4 linked regions of the Homo sapiens genome follow. The protein of the gene in region 2 purifies or fractionates together with the protein of the main gene of each other region. This does not show direct contact. Each region holds a gene or a part of one and is shown on either strand. Other genes may lie near its edges.

What was found.
Region 1: the proteins of GNG12 (region 2) and LACC1 purify together in Homo sapiens (affinity purification with mass spectrometry; one large-scale study listed by BioGRID and IntAct). This does not show direct contact.
Region 3: the proteins of GNG12 (region 2) and RAP1A fractionate together in Homo sapiens (co-fractionation; one large-scale study listed by BioGRID). This does not show direct contact.
Region 4: the proteins of GNG12 (region 2) and GNB5 purify together in Homo sapiens (co-immunoprecipitation; one large-scale study listed by IntAct). This does not show direct contact.

What each region holds. Positions count from the first base shown.
Region 1 is NC_000013.11:43,885,744-43,890,854, reverse strand, and holds part of LACC1 (purine nucleoside phosphorylase LACC1), read right to left. Parts: exon of another isoform or gene 4,065-5,111; intron 2,099-4,064; coding exon 1,873-2,098; intron 742-1,872; coding exon 582-741; 3' UTR 581-581; exon of another isoform or gene 576-580; intron 1-575. UniProt on the Homo sapiens protein: Purine nucleoside enzyme that catalyzes the phosphorolysis of adenosine, guanosine and inosine nucleosides, yielding D-ribose 1-phosphate and the respective free bases, adenine, guanine and hypoxanthine.
Region 2 is NC_000001.11:67,826,313-67,831,423, forward strand, and holds part of GNG12 (guanine nucleotide-binding protein G(I)/G(S)/G(O) subunit gamma-12), read right to left. Parts: intron 1-5,111. UniProt on the Homo sapiens protein: Guanine nucleotide-binding proteins (G proteins) are involved as a modulator or transducer in various transmembrane signaling systems.
Region 3 is NC_000001.11:111,703,289-111,706,788, reverse strand, and holds part of RAP1A (ras-related protein Rap-1A precursor), read right to left. Parts: intron 3,454-3,500; coding exon 3,313-3,453; intron 2,447-3,312; coding exon 2,303-2,446; intron 1-2,302. UniProt on the Homo sapiens protein: Counteracts the mitogenic function of Ras, at least partly because it can interact with Ras GAPs and RAF in a competitive manner. Together with ITGB1BP1, regulates KRIT1 localization to microtubules and membranes.
Region 4 is NC_000015.10:52,113,655-52,119,058, reverse strand, and holds the end of GNB5 (guanine nucleotide-binding protein subunit beta-5), read left to right. Parts: 3' UTR 1-3,959; downstream 3,960-5,404. UniProt on the Homo sapiens protein: Enhances GTPase-activating protein (GAP) activity of regulator of G protein signaling (RGS) proteins, such as RGS7 and RGS9, hence involved in the termination of the signaling initiated by the G protein coupled receptors (GPCRs) by accelerating the GTP hydrolysis on the G-alpha subunits, thereby promoting their inactivation.

The sequences.
Region 1 (5,111 bases), on a different chromosome or scaffold from region 2:
CTGTATGTCCCACAAAGTCTAAACTACTTACTGTCATTTTAAAATAAAAATTTGGGCAACTCCAACTGCAGATAATCATTTGGAAATCTAGTTGAAAATCAAGCTAGTTTCTTTGTGAGAATTTCTTATGATTCTAGAATTCAGAATGTTTATGCAAAGATTTGTTTTCAAAAATAACATGAAAGTTATAAGGATGTGAGGATAGGGAATGTACAGATATCAAGTACATAGTAGAGAGAAAGGAAATACTTACATACCTTTTTAAAGATTAAATTGTTTTATTTTTATACTTTTAACATAAGCCTGCCTAATTATTCTTCATTAACTAGGAAAAGGAGTGGCTGCTCTTCATAATAGAGTGTTATTGGAAATGAACGTTGCTACCACTATTACATCACTAAAAAAGTAGAAACATCATTCTCCCTGTAGGAATAAAGGAGTAAAGTTTAACATAATTAACTTTTTTTTTTTAAATAAGGGGAGGAATAGGCTAAAAGAGGAAGAAAGAGAAAGGGAGGGAGAAGTGGAGAGAGGGATGAAAGAGAGGAAAAACGGAGAGAGGAGAGAAAACCTACTGTACCTCATTCTTTAATTGATATGAAGCCAATCTGTGTACCAAAATTAAGGCCATCTCGGACATGGGAGAAAAACTTGTCAGGATGGCAAGATGTACAGAGGTTGAGATCTTGGTTCTGGTCCTGAATATTCTGTGGAAGAATTCCTCCCTGTTCTAGAAGAATCCTTAGGAAAAATATTTTTCAAAAGAGAGCAAGAGTTTATTTTCCCAATAGCCAAAGCAATATGAAAAAAAGTATGGATGTTGGCATGAAAAAGTTCCAGGAAAGATGTACCTAGAACAATGTATATTGTTATTCACTTACAGAACATGGACTAGTCAGGGAAAAAAATGCTACACTTTATCAGCATTTATCACCTAAGTTCATATATGCACAGTACAACCTTCCATATTGTCTTATAGACATAATCTAGGTACAGAATTTTATAATCAAAATCAAGTGCTTATTTAAGAAGAAATGTCTACAAAAGTTACCAGGATATCAGGCAAAATTCACCTGGCTCAGCCAGAGTATGCTTTTTAGTCATCTGGCCCTTCATCTCCTTTCCTTCTATTAGCCAGATTTTTCTCAGAAAACTTGCTTCTCCATGAACACTTTATGATATGAAATATGACTACAAGTTAGTGATACTTGATTTTAAAAGTCACATTTAAGAATCAATTTCAAACTTTTCCACATCTGTACTAAATGAGGCAGACTCTGGGTAAAGTTTTGGCGACTGGAATAGAAACATGATTTAAAACATACATTAATTTGCCTTTGTAGTAATGACAAATAATTTTCACCAGTTATTAATAACAAAACCTTGTAAATTAAAAGATGCGAAGAACTGTAAAAAACTTAAAAGTAAAAAACCGTGTATTTATATTATCTAATATTTTTTCTAAAAAACATATTCCTCTAGTTAATTAGATAATAAGAATAATTTTAAAATATCAGCTTCCTGATAGTTCATTACATTTAGGAGAATTTAGCTGAGGAATGGCTGTGAAGTAAAGTACACGCCAACTTTTCTATATGAAGTTTAAGTAGATCTCTTAAAATTAAATGCCAAATATTTCTTCCTTCACTTTTAAATCAATGAAAGATACCAGACAGGAAAATTTCTGTTATTCAAACTCAAATGAAAACAGATTTCATATTTAAAATGAGTGTTTGTGTACATGTGCATGTCAGCTGCTTAAATAACCACCACCTAAATTCTTCTTAGAGTTATTAATTGTTCTCCAAAATAAATTTCATTTTAGAACAATCAGAAATAATCAAACTTGCAGTTGAATGAAATCAGACATACCTTGTGGCTTTACGGATGTCGATACAGGGATTTGGTGAATCAAATAGTTGTACACATGCAGGATGAAGATTATGAAATGCCTCTGCTGATTCCCTTGGAAGAGTAAAACAGCAAGGTCCTACTGAAGGTCCAAGTACAACAACAATGTCTTCCAAACTGCAGCCATATTCTGCTATCATAGCATTCACTGTAGCCATAGCAACACCCAACAAAGTACCTTTCCAACCTGGTAAATAGGAATAAAAAGAGATAAGAGAAGTCAAAACATAAAAAATTTCACCTGAATTTATGTCTAAGTTAAAAGTGAGCAGATTTAGTTTGTATATTTTTCAAAGTCCAGAAATAATAAATTACATTATCATGTGGTTTTTAAATGAGCCATACTACACAAAGCACCTGACACAGAAGAGACATGTAATGGGAGTTTTCTTCATCTTCCATTTAAAGATGCTCTATACTTTTAGTTTCCACTGAGATCATAGCTTCTTAGTCTTCTATTTTTCACATTTTAAAAGATTGTGGTTAAAAACCCACAAAATTTACTATTATAACCACAAAAAAATACTATTCTAAGTATACAGTTCAGTAGTGTTGAACTCACATTGTTGTATAACCAATCTCCAGAATTTTTTCATTTGATAAAATGGAAACTCTACAACTATTAACAATAACTCCTTGTTTCTTCCTTTTACCAGCCCCTGGCAATCACCATTCTTCTTCCAGTTCCTGTACATTTGATTACTGTAGGTATATCATATAAGTGAAATCAATACAGTATTTATCTTTTTGTGACTGACTGATTTCACTTAGCATAATGTCCTTAAGGTTCATCTATATTGTAGTATGTGTCAGAATATCCTGCCTTTTTAAAGCTAAATAATATTCCATTGTATGCACACACATTTTGCTTATCCATTCATCTACCAATGTACCTTAGATTGCTTTCACCTTTTGGCTATTGCGAATAATCGTGTTATCAACATTGGTGTGCAAATATCTCTTTGAGTTCCTGATTTCAGTTATTTTGGATATACTTCCAGAAGAGGAATTTCTGGATTATATGGTAATCTATTTATAATTTTTTGAGAAATTGCCATACTGTTTTCTATAGTGGCTACACAATTTCACATTCCCACCACCAGTGCACCAGGATTTCAACTTCTCCATATCCTCAACAACACTTATTTTCTGAGGTTTTAAAATATTAGCCATCCTAATGGATGTGGGGTGATATTTCACTGTGGTTTTGATTTGCGTTTCTCTAACTTCTAATCCATGAACACAGAATTTCTCTGCATTTATTTGTGTCTTCTTTAATGTCCTTCAGCAATGTTTTGCAGTTTTCATCTCTCCCTTTTTACAAAAATATATCTATTATATTTCAATTAACAGCCTCTTTTTACTCCCTTCCCACTTGCCCAGACTATCGTTCCCTTGCCATCTTTGTCTTATCTGCCTTGCATCTTACAGTGTTCTAAGATAAAACCATCTTCTTTACTTATGCTACCTTCTTGTTGCCAAAGACAGAAAGCTAAGAATATTGCATTTTTCCTTTATTCCCTATATCTGGGTTTGATTCAGCTGATATGGTTGGCCAATAATGAGTACCCTTACACCTTCCTTAAGCACTCCATACTCATACCCTTCAAAAGGTAGGCACTCAGGTGAAGGGATCAATTTTTACAGATAAAAGGAGATGATGAAAGCAAGAAGGACTTAGGTGACAGGTTCAGCCTCTACAGGTAACCCACTGAATATGTGGTTATGGGAAGTACAGAATGAAGACATCAAGTTTCTATCTGTAAGTGGGTAGGATATCAATAATTAAAACAGGAAACCTAACTGGCAGAGAAGACTTTAGGAAAAAAATGTTGAGTTTTTGACATAATGATTTTCAGGCACCTAGGAAGATGCAGACAGTGATGTTCAAAGGGAAGCAACTAGATATAGGCATTTTGAGTTAAAGAGAGAAACTGTCAGGGCTTTTCTACAGATGAGAGTAGCTCTCTTCCTCAGTGAGCCTCCTTAGTTATCCTCTCACTTGTAGTTCATCCACCTCCTTTCTATTTGATTTTTCTATGCCTATCTATATATACATATCTAGTTAAAAGATCTTTATTAAATTAGTCCCATAGAAGAATTTTATTCTTTTTGATATCTGATAAAAGTAGTATACAATGTAGCTAATTATATTATATTTTAAAGTTAATTTATTTTTATTCTTCCAACTTTTTAGGTTCGGGGTACATATATGCAGGTTTGTTACATGGGTAAATTGCATGTCACTGGGGTTTCGTGTACAAACGATTTCATCACCCAAGTAGTGGACATAGTACCGAACAGACAGTTCTTCAGTCGTCACCCTCCTCCCACCCACCACCCTTAAGTAAGCCCCCATGTCCATTGTCCCTTTTTTTGTGTCCATGTGTACTCAATGTGTAGCTCCCACTTAAAGGATACATATGGTATCTGATTTTCTGTTCCTGCATTAATTCATTTAGGATGGCTTCCAGCTGCATCTATGTTGCTGTAAGGATATGATTTCATTCTTTTTTATGGCTTTATAGTATTCCATTATGTATATGTACCATATTTTCTTTATCCAGTCCACCACTGATGGGCATCTAAGTTGATTCCATGTCTTCATTATTGTGAAAAGTGCTGTGATGAACATACGTGTGCATGTGTCTTTATGGCAGAATAATTTATATTCCTTTGGGTATATACCCAGTAATGGGATTGCTGGGTTGAATGGTAGTTCTAATTTTAAGTTCTTTGAGAAATATACAAACTGCTTTCCACAGTGGCTGAACTAATTTACATTCCCACTAGCAGTGTGTAAGCATTTCCTTTTCTCCACAATCTCACCAACATCTGTTGTTTTTTGACTTTTTTTATAACAGCCATTCTGACTGGTATGAAATGGTATCTCATTGTAGTTGTGATTTGCATTTCTCTAATGATTAGTAATATCAAGCGTTTTTTCATATGCTTGTTGACCACGTGTAAGTCTTCTTTTGAGAAGCGTTTGTTCATGTCCTTTGCCCATTTTTTAATGGGATTGATTGTTATTTGTTTGTTGATTTAAGTTCCTTATAGAGTCTCGGTGTTAGACCTTTTCAGCTGCATAGTTTGCAAATATTTTCTCCAATTCTGTAGGTTTTCTGTTTACTCTGTTGATAGTTTCTTTTGCTGTGCAGAAGCTCCTTAGTTTAATTGGGTCCCACTTGACTATTTTT
Region 2 (5,111 bases):
CAGAGGCAATCCTACTCCAGGATGCATGTGGTTTTGTTTGTTTAGCAGATGTGAGCCTCCCATTTGCCTCCTTGCCCAGGCACTTTTGTGCAGTGAACAACCTGTATAACAGTTCAAGGTATCCCTGTCAAGAAGTCACAATCCATTCCTTCTGCTTCTTGGCCAGACATCCAACCCTCCCATGACAACTTATCTGCACAGCCAATCATGACCTTATATACCCACATGAAGCCCCATGGTCTAATGTGCAGGCCATGGTCTAATAATTCAGAAGATTTCATTAGTCTAGGCACAGCTCAGGCACCTAGTCTAAAGGTTACACCTTTCTAATTTGCCTGAGATTCTGGTTAAACTTGGTATGATGATGTTATCTCAATAAGGTCTTCAATAAGCCTCAATAAAGTCCAAGAGGCTTTTAGATTTTGATTCCTCTTTCCACCCTTAGATTTAGCTCATGTTGGGATTTAATGGATTTCAGTTTGAGTCTTCATTTGAGAAAAAACCTTATGTTTTTCCTCTGCAATAATTTATCCCCCCAAAACAACACAAAATTTGAGGTAACTGCAAGCTTGGGGTCTGAGTCAAAGGGTCCCAGTGGGGAGTTAAGGGTTTAGTGTCCAGTGGTCAAGGACGTCTTGGCTAGTGCCATCTGAAGCTAAATAAAAGCCTGATTATTTCACATCAATGAAGTTAAGATTCTGCCTCCAATGGGCTCATGTGAGTTTGCACAAAGCCATTCTGAATCAAGACAATTCTCTACACACAATGCAAGTGCAGAGATGGCAACTGATTCAGACTTCACTCCAGTGAGCATGTGTGATCACGCAAACTCAAGTTCAACCAGAGCTTATACTTCTCTCTTCGGTCAACTAAAGGGGATCCTATGTCAATTACATGACCTTGCCTGCAAGGGGAGTGGTGGCCTACTGTGTCAGAAAGCATACAGAATACAAAGCCTTCTGACTCTCTGGGCCCAAAGTCACCCACTTATTATACAATCAATGAAACTGAAAATTACAGAAGATTTTAGCAACCAATCTCTTAGAACTTCTAGATACTAACCCTCTGGCAGAACTGAAAGTATTAATTCTTAACAGTCTCCAACACTCCAGTTTTTTTTTTTATTTTTTTAAGATGGCATCTTGCTCTGTTGCCCAGGCTTGAGTACAGTGGCACGATCTCGGCTCACTGCAAGCTCTGCCTCCCAGGTTCACGCCATTTTCCTGCCTCAGCCTTCCAAGTAGCTGGGACTACAGGCGACCGCCACCACGCCCGGCTAATTTTTTGTATTTTTAGTAGAGACGGGGTTTCATCATGTTAGCCAGGATGGTCTCGCTCTCCTGACCTTGTGATCCACCCGCCTCGGCCTCCCAAAGTGCTGGGATTACAGGCGTGAGCGACTGCACCCAGCCAACACTCCAGTTTTTATTATACAGTAATTCTCTGAAATGCAGACCCATTAAAAGAAGACAAAAACCCTCCTTGTCACAGGATGGTAACCAGACACTTCACAACTGAGCACTTTTACGACACCCAATAAAGACTAACATGATAAACCAAACACTTAAGTGACATCAGATATGATTTTCAAGAGAGACTCTCCAATAAATGGAATAATCTAGCTACAAGTTATCTTAAGTCAAGTCACCTCCACCATCTGCCCTGGATCCATGCTACCTGTTAACTACTCTCCTGTCATTCCTAAGGGAGGAAAGTGGGGAGGTCAGGATCTGTGGGTATGTGCTGGTTCTAGAACAGGATTTAGCGAGTCAGTTCCTTCATCTGTACTATCCAGACCCCCTTTGGAAGTCCAGGGATGAAAGAGGTAGGCTTCACAGGGTCACCAAGGACTGGGCCTTTGTGTGCGCTTCAGGCCTGCTGGGTCTCAGCAGCCATTTGGAAGTGTTAACTGCTATGGCTAAAGAGTGGCAAGCCTGATGGAGAGGCACTGATGATTCTCCTCAGGAAGGTCACCTAAAAGGAGTCTCCTCCTCATGTTTCTCTTGATTAGTTTTATAGTTTTTAAGCAAAACTGACTCCATAAAGCCCACTTCACTCTCACCTCTGGCTGGATGCACCTCCATCTCCGTGCAGAGGGCATGAGATGTGGAGTTAAGATGCTTCTGGGTCAAATTCTGTCCTTGCAACTTGAGCAAGGTTCAGACCTTTAAGGAACCTCAGCTTCCTCCTCTGGGCTGTTGTGACAACTGAGCAAGACTGTATACGGGAAGAGTTTAGAAAGGGCTCAGGATATATAATATATACAATTGTGCTGTAATTAGTTTTTATCTATCCAACCTTCCTGTTAAACTAAGTGCACCAATATCTGCCTCATTACTGTCTTCCAGGTGTCTGATATACTGAAGGTGCTGTAAAAACGCAGCTCATCAAGGCAGGCCTGGATCTGGGAAGTCACAACTTCCATAAAGTCAAGGTTGGTGGACTAGGTCTATATGCAGATCCTAAAAACCCACTGGTAGACTTTTCAAATATTCTTCATGAAGATCAAACTACAAGCTTCTGAAAGGCCTTCTCTTTTACCGCTAAACAATTCTCACTGCAAAGGTTTTGACATTTAACCGAAGGACATTCAACTGCCATAAAGTTGGTGCTTTTTCCAAAACAACAATAAAATCCTGCTATTTGTAGTTAACAAGCCAGATTTGTTTTTTAGTAACTATTACGCAAATTTTTTTTAGTATTTGTAGTTAATAAACCAGATTTGTTTAGTAACTATTACACAAATGAATTATATTTTAGTATATATATAGGCGCATTGTGGAAAATAGGGGAAAAGCAGGTTGGGGGTGGGAGAGCACCATAATCCCATCACCAATTTGTCTGTATTTTCTTCTAGGCTTTTCTTATGGTTTAAAAATAATTTTTAAGCTAGCTGTAATTGTAATAACACAATGTAACTGTGCATACTGCTTTTCCCCATTTTAAACTGTAACAGACTTCATGTATTACTGATTTTTTAAAGTCTCTAATAAAAAAGAAAATGGAATTGAGATTTGGAAGAATTAACTTGTTTAACAAATTAATATTGCAAACCATTTCACATTTAAAAGACAAAATGATGATTGTCTAATTCTCTTACTTTTTAAGTACTATTTGGCAGGACTATTTAAATTACTGAGCTTTTTTTAGATTTGGGGGAAATATTAAAATTTTGTATAGCTGTTTTCCTGTTACAAAAATAATGCATGCTCATTATACAACATTTAGAGAAAATTTCAATAATTTAATGTTAACATTTATTGAATGTGGACTATGCACCAGGCACTATTCCAAATGCTATATACATAGATTAGCTCATTTATTCCTCACAACACTTATTGAAGCATAGATTAAGTAACTTGCTCACAGTCTACTCACCTAGAAGTATGAGCCAGAAATCATTATGTTATGTTCTAGGAGTGAAACGAATCAATAATTTACTCAATCAAATGCTTCAGTTGTTTCAGAGCATAATGTCATAGGCAAGAAACAATTAATAATCACACTGTACCCTTTATAGTTATTTAAAATTATTATAAACCACATCTCTGTGTCCCAGTGGAGCAATTAGTAAAATGAGAAATCATCTGTGGCATGAGCTAAGATCCTGGTTCAGCCCAATTCTGTGCACCTGACGTGCATTAGGACAAAAACAAGAAGCTTTAAAGGGTTTGTTTTAAAGATGGAGGCTTTTTTTTTTTTTTTTTTTGAGACAGAGTTTTTGCTCTTGTTGCCCAGGCTGGAGTGCAATGGCACGATCTCGATTCACCGCAACCTCCGCCTCCTGGGTTCAAGTGATTCTCCTGCCTCAGCATCCCGAGTAGCTGGGACTTCAGGCATGCGCCATCACGCCTGGTTTATTTTGTATTTTTAGTAGAGATGGGGTTTCTCCATGTGGGTCAGGCTGGTCTTGAACTCCCGACCTCAGGTGATCCGCCCACCTTGGCCTCCCAAAGTGCTGGGATTATAGGTGTGAGCCACAGCGCCTGGCAAGATGAAGGCATTTAAAAAATTTTTTAGATTTTAGGAAATGAGTCAACAATGTGATGAGTAGATTTCCTGAATTAACTGAACACCCAATCTCATGAAAGTTTACAAATAAAACAACGACTCACAATCAGCCTAACACTTCTTATGGCTTATCTGTTGGCCTTGGACATCAGCACATGCAAAAGTAAATAACCGGATACCCTTGGGTCACATGTTTTCATACTTTGATTAAGAATTACACTTGGTTAAAGATGAATACTTCTGTTCCTGGCTTAATTTCTTACCTAGGGCTAATAAACACAACTATTTGAAATATAAATTCTCTTTAAATGTAAAGGATAATGCAATGTTTCTGACTGTCAAAATTACTATGCAACTGTAACTTTAGCACTAAAAGCATATTAAAACTATTAATCCTTTAATCATAATTATTCATATTGCTGTGGTAGAAACATCACACATACACACACACAAACACACACACACCAGTTACTTTCTGTAGAATTTGAAATTGCTCTATCTAGCATTTCCGGAAGGTTCAAGCTGCCACCCTGCAATTTATCCAGTAGCCTGCTGCTTGAACAAGCTAGATAAATATCTAATAATTTTGACCATGTACTGCGTGTTAAGTCCAGTTTAAGTGTTTTCCAAAGACAAAGTTTTCATATACTTTCTGTAAAGCCCTACAGATAGAGACCATTATTATCCCCATCTTATAAATCAGACTGAAAAAGGTTAAATAGCTAATATTTTCATCTAAGTCTGTCTGACTCCAAAGCCAACACCCCAAATCACTGTTAAACAAGCTTCTCTTCCAAGTTAGGGCTCAGAAAAATTTACTTGCTTTCACAACTTGCCTTCCTAGGTTAAGCTTAAGCTGACATAAAACTCCAAAACAAAGCAAAACACAATAAATCACATAATTCTAATTTTAAAAAAAACTAATTTGATATTGGCTAACCACTTCCTCAAGTTTTCTGACCATGAAGCCCTTTGCTCTCACACTTTAATAAACCACCGATATTCTCTAACAAGTGACAACACAAATCCACAAATCTAATTGTTAGAGAGCTTTCAAGTAAGACTGGAGCTTTCTGGACAGGAAATTTTTATAATTCTAT
Region 3 (3,500 bases), about 44 Mb from region 2:
ACATTGCCTACCTCACAGCAGCAGATGGTTCAGTGATGAGGGCAAGTTCGAACTATAATATTTGGTTAGAAATGCTGAAAGGCCCCAGCCTAGGTTCTTCCTCATCTCTCTGAACTATAGAAAAATCTAAAGGGAACACAGAATAGAGTTTCTCAATCCCTCTCCCATTCCTAAATTGGGTTGTCTTGATTCCAATTACTATTCCAGCCTCAGCAAAGAACAATTAATTCTTGATTAAGACTACTGTGATTCTGGCATAGCCATATACTACTTTAAGAACGTTGCAAAGTGGTGTGAATAAGAGTTTTTGAAAAATTATATATATATATATATGAATGAATTAGGGGGCTCTTTAGCCAAGCAGTATGTCCTGGTGTCTGTTTTCAAATTTAAGGCCAAGAGGTGAATTTTTGAAAGTATCTCTCTATACTTCAGGCATTCAAAACTCACAAAAAAATTTACAAGGCAAAAGTTGTGTGAGGAACTATTAACTACCAAAGAAATCCTGTAGCTGGATTATTGGGTTATAAAGAGAAAAATATTAAAAGAAACTCAAATTATCTGCTCCATTCTCCCCACTCTCAAGAACTGAGCATAAAGTTTGTATGTTTTCCAAAAAGTAAAGATTCTTGAGATGGCTAATGCATTTCATTTTATGGTTTTTCTATGTTTGTTTTTATAAACCCTCGTTTATAAACTCTCTGCTTTAACAAGACTGCTATGAAAAAGTATCTCTGCTGCATTGGAAACTAATCCAGAGGAAGTTTAATAGCATGTAGGTTCTCACAAACATGTAGTGTACTGTCCTCTGGCTCCCAAAGGGAGAAGTCCTATGCACTGGACTCAGGCCCAACCCAGCCCCACCGGAGCCTGGAGTCTGATGAACTTGGTTGGTGGGTCCCATGGAGGTAAGGACAAGGACAGCAAGGAACCACATCCCGTAAGGCCAATTATCTTGTAGATAGTGACCTCATGTCACTGTTCTGCTAGCCAAACATATTCACAATTTCTAACAAATTCTTTATCAAAATCACTTTTTTTCTTTAATTATTGCTGAAAGACTTGTTCCCCCAGTAGGATGCAAACTTCTTCAGGGCAGGAATAGTGTCTGTCTGAGTGACTGTTACCTGAGGGCCTGACACAGTGCCAGACACACAATAGTCAATAAATATTTGCTGAATAAATACAATTTATAAATTTCTTGTTTTTATGTACTTGTTAAAAATGGTTTCACATAAAAAAACAAGCTTTGGCATTCTTGATTATCTGTAAAATACAGAAGTTGAAGCAAGCTTAATTTTTTTTTACCTGCCAGGTGTTTAAAGTAACCTGGTCATTTTTAAAAGTCAAATAGTCTATAAGCATAATATTAGTCAAGAAAAAGTGGCCAGCAGAACCACAGGCCAGAGAGAATAGCAAAAACAGAGGACTCATAACTTAACCCACTCTCACTCTCACCTATGTAGTTAAGTGATCTGAATTCTGACTGATTACCTGTAATGCTACAAATGGCAAAAGCAACGGCAGGAAAGAAGCCCACTCTGTTGTTTTTATTTTTTTAAAAGGCTTATGTTAAGGTTAACAAAAGCAAGGGAACTATTTAAGGTTGACTGGTGGGGACAGTTGGAAATTGCTCTAAATTTTTAGGGGCCCAGTAAACTAGTAAACTGTTGGCCCTTTACACCCAGGCATGCAGCTTATTTGCTAAGTATTCTTGTCCACAGCTGTTTTCAAGATAGTGGAGTGCTTAACCCAGTGACCCCACCCCCATGCCCCACACAAAAGCCTTGTGCATCAGCTGTATCAGGCCTAAAGGACTGAGTGAATTCCAGGTACATGTCCATACCCACACAGATTACCCACTTATGAGTCATGCACCAAAGGTGAGGTAAGACTCAGAACACAATTCTGTGATATCCATAAAAACATATTATTTTCCAACTTGACTTTACAACCTATTTATATACATTTGGGTAAATAATTATTACAATATAAGGTGATGTAACAATTTTTACACACCACTTTATCGCATATCACTTAGAGGCTTAGCAGGATTTTACACACATTCTTCAATTTTAGCTTCCTCTTTTACAATAAGGTAAATTTAAGTATCCTCATACAGCCATCAAAGTGACCTTATGCAAGCTAAAAAATATAGTTTCCAGGAATTACTTAGTGTTTCCTATAAAATTATGGAATCAAGATTGCTTAAAAGATAAAAATTTTTTCTTAAAAGTCTGGCTGTTAACTTAAAGCAAACTAAAAAGGCACTTGTTTGTGCTGCCCAGCAGTTGTAGGTTACCTCATTAACATTGATCTTTGACTTTGCAGAAGATTCTAAAAAGGCACAGTTACACCACTGTCTTGCTAAATTCTGGCCCTGCTCTTTGCCAACTACTCGCTCATCTTCCAGGTCACATTTATTGCCAACCAAAATCATTGGAACCTGTGGGAAGAAAAAAACGTAAAATGAACAATAACATACTCATTACTTAGCCTTTTAAAAAAATAAATAAGCAATTATCTGCCACCAACTGAAATGCATTAGTTGGGACCGCAAGCTTCATCAAATACTAACGAAAAGTATATGTTGAGGGGAAGAGGCGAAGGAAGAAGGAAGAGACAAAAAAAAAAAAAAAATGGAAGAGATCCTACTACATAGATATGCCAAATTATTTTAAGAATATAATCCTGGCCAGGCACAATGGTTCATGCCTGTAATCCCAGGGAGGCTGAGGTAGGAGGACTGCTTGAGCTCAGGAGCCTGAGACAAGCCTGGGTAACATAGTGAGACCTGGTCTCTACTAAAAAATTCAAAAACAATCAGCCAGGCAGGGTGGCACACACCTGTAGTCCCAACTACTCAGGGGGTTGAGGTGGGAAGATCACTTGAGCCCGGGAGGTAGACTGTGATGTGTGAATTATACCAATGGAATTTTAGAAATAAAAACACACCACTATGGATCTTAATAATGTTCTTTGAACACTGTTTCTGACACAACCATCACCTTTCAAAGCTCAACTCAGGTCCCACTTCTATGAAGTATTCTTTGGCTCCTCTTTTTCCTCTACTGCACTTTTTAACCTATAGCACAATGAGTACTTTATCACATATGTCCTCATTTTCTAAACATCTCACCACATAATTTTGAGGTTAATTTTGAAAGTTAAATTTTTTTCTTTTGGTCACAGGGGCTCTTTCAGGCATGTGGTAGATAGCTTCCAAATCCTCTACTAATAGAGAAAACAGGCACTTTTTTATTTGGCCACAGAGAGATGGCATAACATCTTACAGAGAGAAAAAATACTTACATCTTCCGTGTCCTTAACCCGTAAAATCTGTTCCCTCAGGTCCTGTAAGTCGTTAAACGTGGACTGAGCTGTAATAGAATATACTAGTGCAAAACCTTGGCCGTTCTTCATATACAAATCCCTCATTGCTGTAAATTGCTCCTATGATTTAAAAAATATGCAATTATAAATATATAAATTTCTTGAAT
Region 4 (5,404 bases), on a different chromosome or scaffold from region 2:
CTCCCCATCTCCTCCCCATTCCCCTTCCCCCAGCTCTTTCTTTTCTCCCCATCTCCTCCCCATCCATAGGCAGCCCCCACTCATATAGCAAATTAGTAATTCTCATCAGTTAGAGCTTCGTCTGGGCTAGTGGTTCTCAAACTTTTTGGTCTTAGGATCTCTGTACACTTTTTTTTTTTTTTTTTTTTTACGTGGAGTTTTGCTCTTGTTGCCCAGGCTGGAGTGCAGTGGCGCGATCTCGGGCTCACTTCAACCTCCGCCTCCTGGGTTCAAGCGATTCTCCTGCCTCAGCCTCCCGAGTAGCTGGGATTACAAGGCATGCACCACCACGCCCGGCTAATTTTGTATTTTTAGTAGAGACCAGGTTTCTCCATGTTGGTCACACTGGTCTCGAACTCCCAACCTCAGGTGATCCTCCCACCTTGGCCTCCCAAAGTGCTGGGATTACAGGTGTAAGCCACCGTGCCCAGCCTACACCCTTAAAAGTTATTGAGGACCCCAAATAACTTGCTCATTGTGGATTGTATCTATCCATATTTATTGTATTAGAAATTAAGACTGAGAAAAAGTTATAAAACACAAGAATACAGATGCACACGTTCCATTAGCCATCAAGGTGATCTTTCTCCCATGCCAGTAGTCTCTGGAAAATTCCTGAGAGGATGAAAATAAAAAAATCACCCATACAAAAAAAAAAAGTGTCAATATTATTATGAAAATAGTTTTGACCGTGAGGACCCCCTGAAAGGGTCTCAGGGACCCTCGGGGGCCCTGGATCTTGCTTTGAGAACAGCTGATCTGGGCTAATGAGCCCTTTTCCAGCCCCTCTGTGTGAGACCTCCCAGAAACCACTAAGGGCCTTGGAAGAGCTTGGCAAAGAAAGAGGTGACAGGATGATTGAGGAGAGCCACCCTAGGGAAAGCCTTCAGAGGAGGCTTTGGGACAGCCCCGGTCGGTGGAGGAAGTCCCAGAGAGGCAGTCGGAAGGGCTAGGGACCAGCTGAGGCCTGTGACCTGAAAATCCTTTCAAAAGAGGACGCCTGGAAGCCTGGGGAAGGCACAGTGGGTGGGGTAGAAGACTGGGGCTGAGGCCCAGGCCATTCCCAAGCCTGGAAGAGCTGATTGAGTGGGGATTTGTAGATCTTCATTTCCCAAACTTGCCTGCTGAGAAGAATCGTCCCACCCATGGCAGGTTCCTGCACTGCGCCTTCAGGGCCCTGCCCTGAGATCTGGACTGGGCGGGCCTGAGGTGGGCCAGGAAATCTGAGCCGGAGGCCCACTGGGGAGGCCGCGAGTGAATCTTGTCTCTGTGGATCCTTTGTAAGGATTGCCATGCTAAACCACTTGCCCTCTCATCCGTGACCGGAGAGAATTGGGTCACTCTTCCAGACATACCACAGACTCCTGCTTCTAGACAGCACTTGGCTGGAGCCAGGCTGGCCTTCAGGGTTGGTCAGTCTCCACAGGGGACTCTGGCCTCCCGTGGGCTGCCACAGGGCCAACCCCAGTGAAAGAAATGAAATGACTGAATATGTTCATGTCATTAGAAAAAGGATGCAGCAGGGGGTGGGGAGGAGTTGGTTAATGGAATCAAATTTGCAGCAAGATAGGAGTCTAGTGTTTGGCGGCACTGTAGGGTGACTATCGCTAACAATAATTTACTGTGTATTTTCAAGTAGCTAGAAGAGAGAATTTTGAATGTTCCTGTCAACCTAAATAACAAAGACAGGCTCGCTAAAGATATTTAATCAAAAGTAGGGCATTGCAACAGGAATATGTGTGCTGTAGTAAACTGTGTGCATATTCCAGGAGGTAAAGAAAAACAAAGGTGACTGGGCGCGGTGGCTCACGCCTGTAATCCCAGCACTTTGGGAGGCCGAGGCGGGTGGATCACGAGGTCAGGAGATCGAGACCATCCTGGCTAACACGGTGAAACCCTGTCTGTACTAAAAAAAAATATATATATATATTAGCTGGGCGTGGTGGCAGGTGCCTGTAGTCCCAGCTGCTCGGGAGGCTGGGGCAGGAGAATGGCATGAACCCAGGAGGTAGAGCTTGCAGTGAGCCGAGATGGCACCACTGCACTCCAGCCTGGGCGACAGAGCGAGACTCTGACTCAAAAAAACAAAGAAAAAAAAAAAGAAAAACAAAGGTTTTTAAAGGAAAAAATGAGGAGGATTACATAATGGTTTTGAAATAATTATCCTTGGCTACAAATATCAATAACAAAGGTCACACCAGTCCGAGGTTGGACAGGCAGTTGCTAGGCAGATGTCTTTGCAGAAGTAATTTTTGTGTGAGGTTGCAGCAGCCTATGTGCAAGGTTGTAATTTTTGCAGAATCTTTTGTGATCATTTTTGGTATTAGGCATACAAGCATGAGAATCCCCTCTTCATGGCCTCCCCAGCTCTATTTGTCATGGTTTGTTTTTTTAAAACACTAGTGACTCTATTTGAATTCTAACAACTTTCACATTCCCAACACAAATGATAGACATTTAAGGGATTAATATGCTAATTACCCTGATCATTACACATTGTATACATGTATCAAAATAACACACTGTACCCCATAAATACATACAATTATGTGTCAATTAAAGATCATTATTTTTAAAAATAGGACCAGAAAAAAAGATGCAGACCCTCTAGTAAGGAGATGGGATCAGGAGTGATTCCATGGTTAATTTAACCCACATAAACAACTAATCGTAAGTATGGTATGAGCGTTTATGTAAAGACTGTGACAACAGGAAATGTCTGTCTTTGAACCCAAGGTTATCTAACCAGCACACCAATGGTGAAAGATTAACTTTGTCAGAAACCAGGAACCATGAAGCAGAGGTCACTGTTTCCAACCTGTGTGTTTTCCACGGTAATTGGCAGCCTCCCCAAGGGAAATTAAAACATATGTCCACACAGAAATTTGAATGCAAATGTTCATAGCAGCATTACTCATAATAGCCCAAAGCTGAAACAGCCCCAATGTTCCACAGTGGATGAATCGATGAACAAAATATGGCGCATCCACAGAATGGAATACAAAGAAAGAAAGCGTGGACACATGCTGCAACATGGATGAACCTTGAAAATATTGTGCCAGGGGAAAGAAACCAGAGACAAAGAGCCACATGTTGTAGGATTCCATGTATATGAAAGGTCCTAATAAGCAAACTCATAAAGACAAAAAGCAGATTGGTGGTCACTTAGGGCTAGGGTGAGGAGTGACGGTTAGTGGGCACTGAGTTTCTCCGGGGGGAACTGAATTAGATGGTGGTGATTGCACAATTCTGTGAATAGACTAAAAACCACTGGACTGTAAGAGGGTGAATTTTTTGGTATATGAATTACATCTCAATAAAGCTGTTACTTAAAACGTGGAAAAAATAATAAGCAGTCACTAGCTATTCTCAATAAAACAGAAACCACATAGGTAAGACCAATATTGTCACATTTTGGTTTTGGCTGATAATGGGGCAAGTGAGCATAGTCACCGTTGCCAGAGGATTTACCATTTACAAATAAAAGTTTCTGTGGAGTGACAACCTTTTACTGTGTGCCAGGTACTGTGCTAAGCACTTTGTATATACCGATTCATGTAATCCTTGTGACAGCCCCGTGATGCCCCATTTTTAGATGGGGAGATTGAGGTTAGGAGAGTTGAATAACTTGCCCATAGCTGCACAGCTTCCAAGTTGCAGAGACAGGATTTTCACCGAGTCTTATTACAAACTGCCTCATATTGTGTGGACTGGAAATTCTATGTTGAGGTTAATTTATTCATTTGTTGTTTAGTTCTTTTCATCATTGTTGAGTTACCAATGGCAGTTCCAGAGGATTTATCATTTACCCCAAAGCTACTGCAAATCTAAGAGAAAACAATGTTCTTGCTGCTAAAGTTTAATGTACAAAAAGGTAAAATCATGACTGTCTTGCAAATAAAACATGAACATGTATCCAAGCTTTTAACTCACTGATTAATAAGGAAACCAGTAAGACGTCAAAACCAGTTCAAATGGGAATTTGATGTACAGAAATTTATATTCTAACAACACTTATTTAGTTCACTGTAAGAAATCATTTGCTTTGGCAGATTAGGCACTCAGCAGAAGCACCAGCCAGCTCAGCCTTTGGAGGGAGAATTCCATGTTGTTGGACCCATACATATCCTCTGTCCCTGCTGCCAAGAGCTCTTTGTTCATCGGCCCGTTGAGCAGACACCACAGCAGCTGCATAGAGAGGCTGGCTGACAGCCACAGAGCATGTAATTCTGTCCATCTGATTCAGGGTCTTCTCTGCAGTGGATGCCCTTTGGTGGGCATTCAGGTGAGATGCAGATATCTTCAGTCTGCCCATTCGGAGGGATTCAGCCACATATCTCTTTCCAAGATTTTCTTGTCACCAATCTTCCAGTCCTGTTCTTTTTAAGGCCCTGACCATCCAGCTAAACCATCAGCGACTGTCCATGAATCAATTTAGGTCTGTATTCTGGCCATCTCTCACTCCAGACATAGTGGACAGCCTTGAGTTTCTGCTCACTGGAAGGATTCTCCTTCACCACTGCCCTTCACAGTCACCCCTGAGTGAGTGTGAGTGAATACTGCAGCTGTTCTCTTTCATGTGGTACCAGCACATCATACAGACCCATCTATAATCCAGGCTGGAGGTTTTTCTCCCTCAGTCAACTGGACATAGGCAGCATCCCAAGAAGCCATAGTTGTAGAATGAGGGAGAGGAGGCAAAGCAACAGGAGTTGATGTTGGAAGAGTCTGAGCCGCCTGCTCATACAATTTACTTATACCTTCTGAACCTGCCTGGGCTGTTTCTAATACACCATTTCCATTTGATGATAGGTGGCTGCTGTATACATCCAATTTTATGGCTACGTAGGTCAGATGACATCCAGTTCATGATGGGAGCTCAAGCTTCATGGTCAGGCATTCTGCCTCTATCAAGGCCTAGTAGCAAGGCAGAACCTGCTTCTCAGAAGGAGAGTAGTTATCTTCAGAAGAGGTTCTAGATTTACTTTAGAATTCTAGAGGTCTGTACTCTCTCCTGTCAGTGCTTGCCAGAGGCTCCATACAGCATCCCTGTTGGACAAAGTCCCACTGGATCTGTTGGATCACAAGACCCAAGTGGTAGGGCAGCTTTACTGCAGCCTGAACCTTCTGCAGAGTCTTCTCTTATTCTGCTCCTCAATCCACCAGCCTGTCAATTGGGTTGAAATAGCACAAACACAGTATATGTTGCCTTCAAAGTCCAAAATGGCTTACTGTTCCAGGCTGTGTCCCCCAAAATTCATATGTTGAAATCCTAACCCCCAGTGTGATGGTATTCAGAGATGGGGCCTTTGGGAGGTATTAGATCACAAAGGTGGAGCCCTCACGAATGAGATTATTGTCCTTA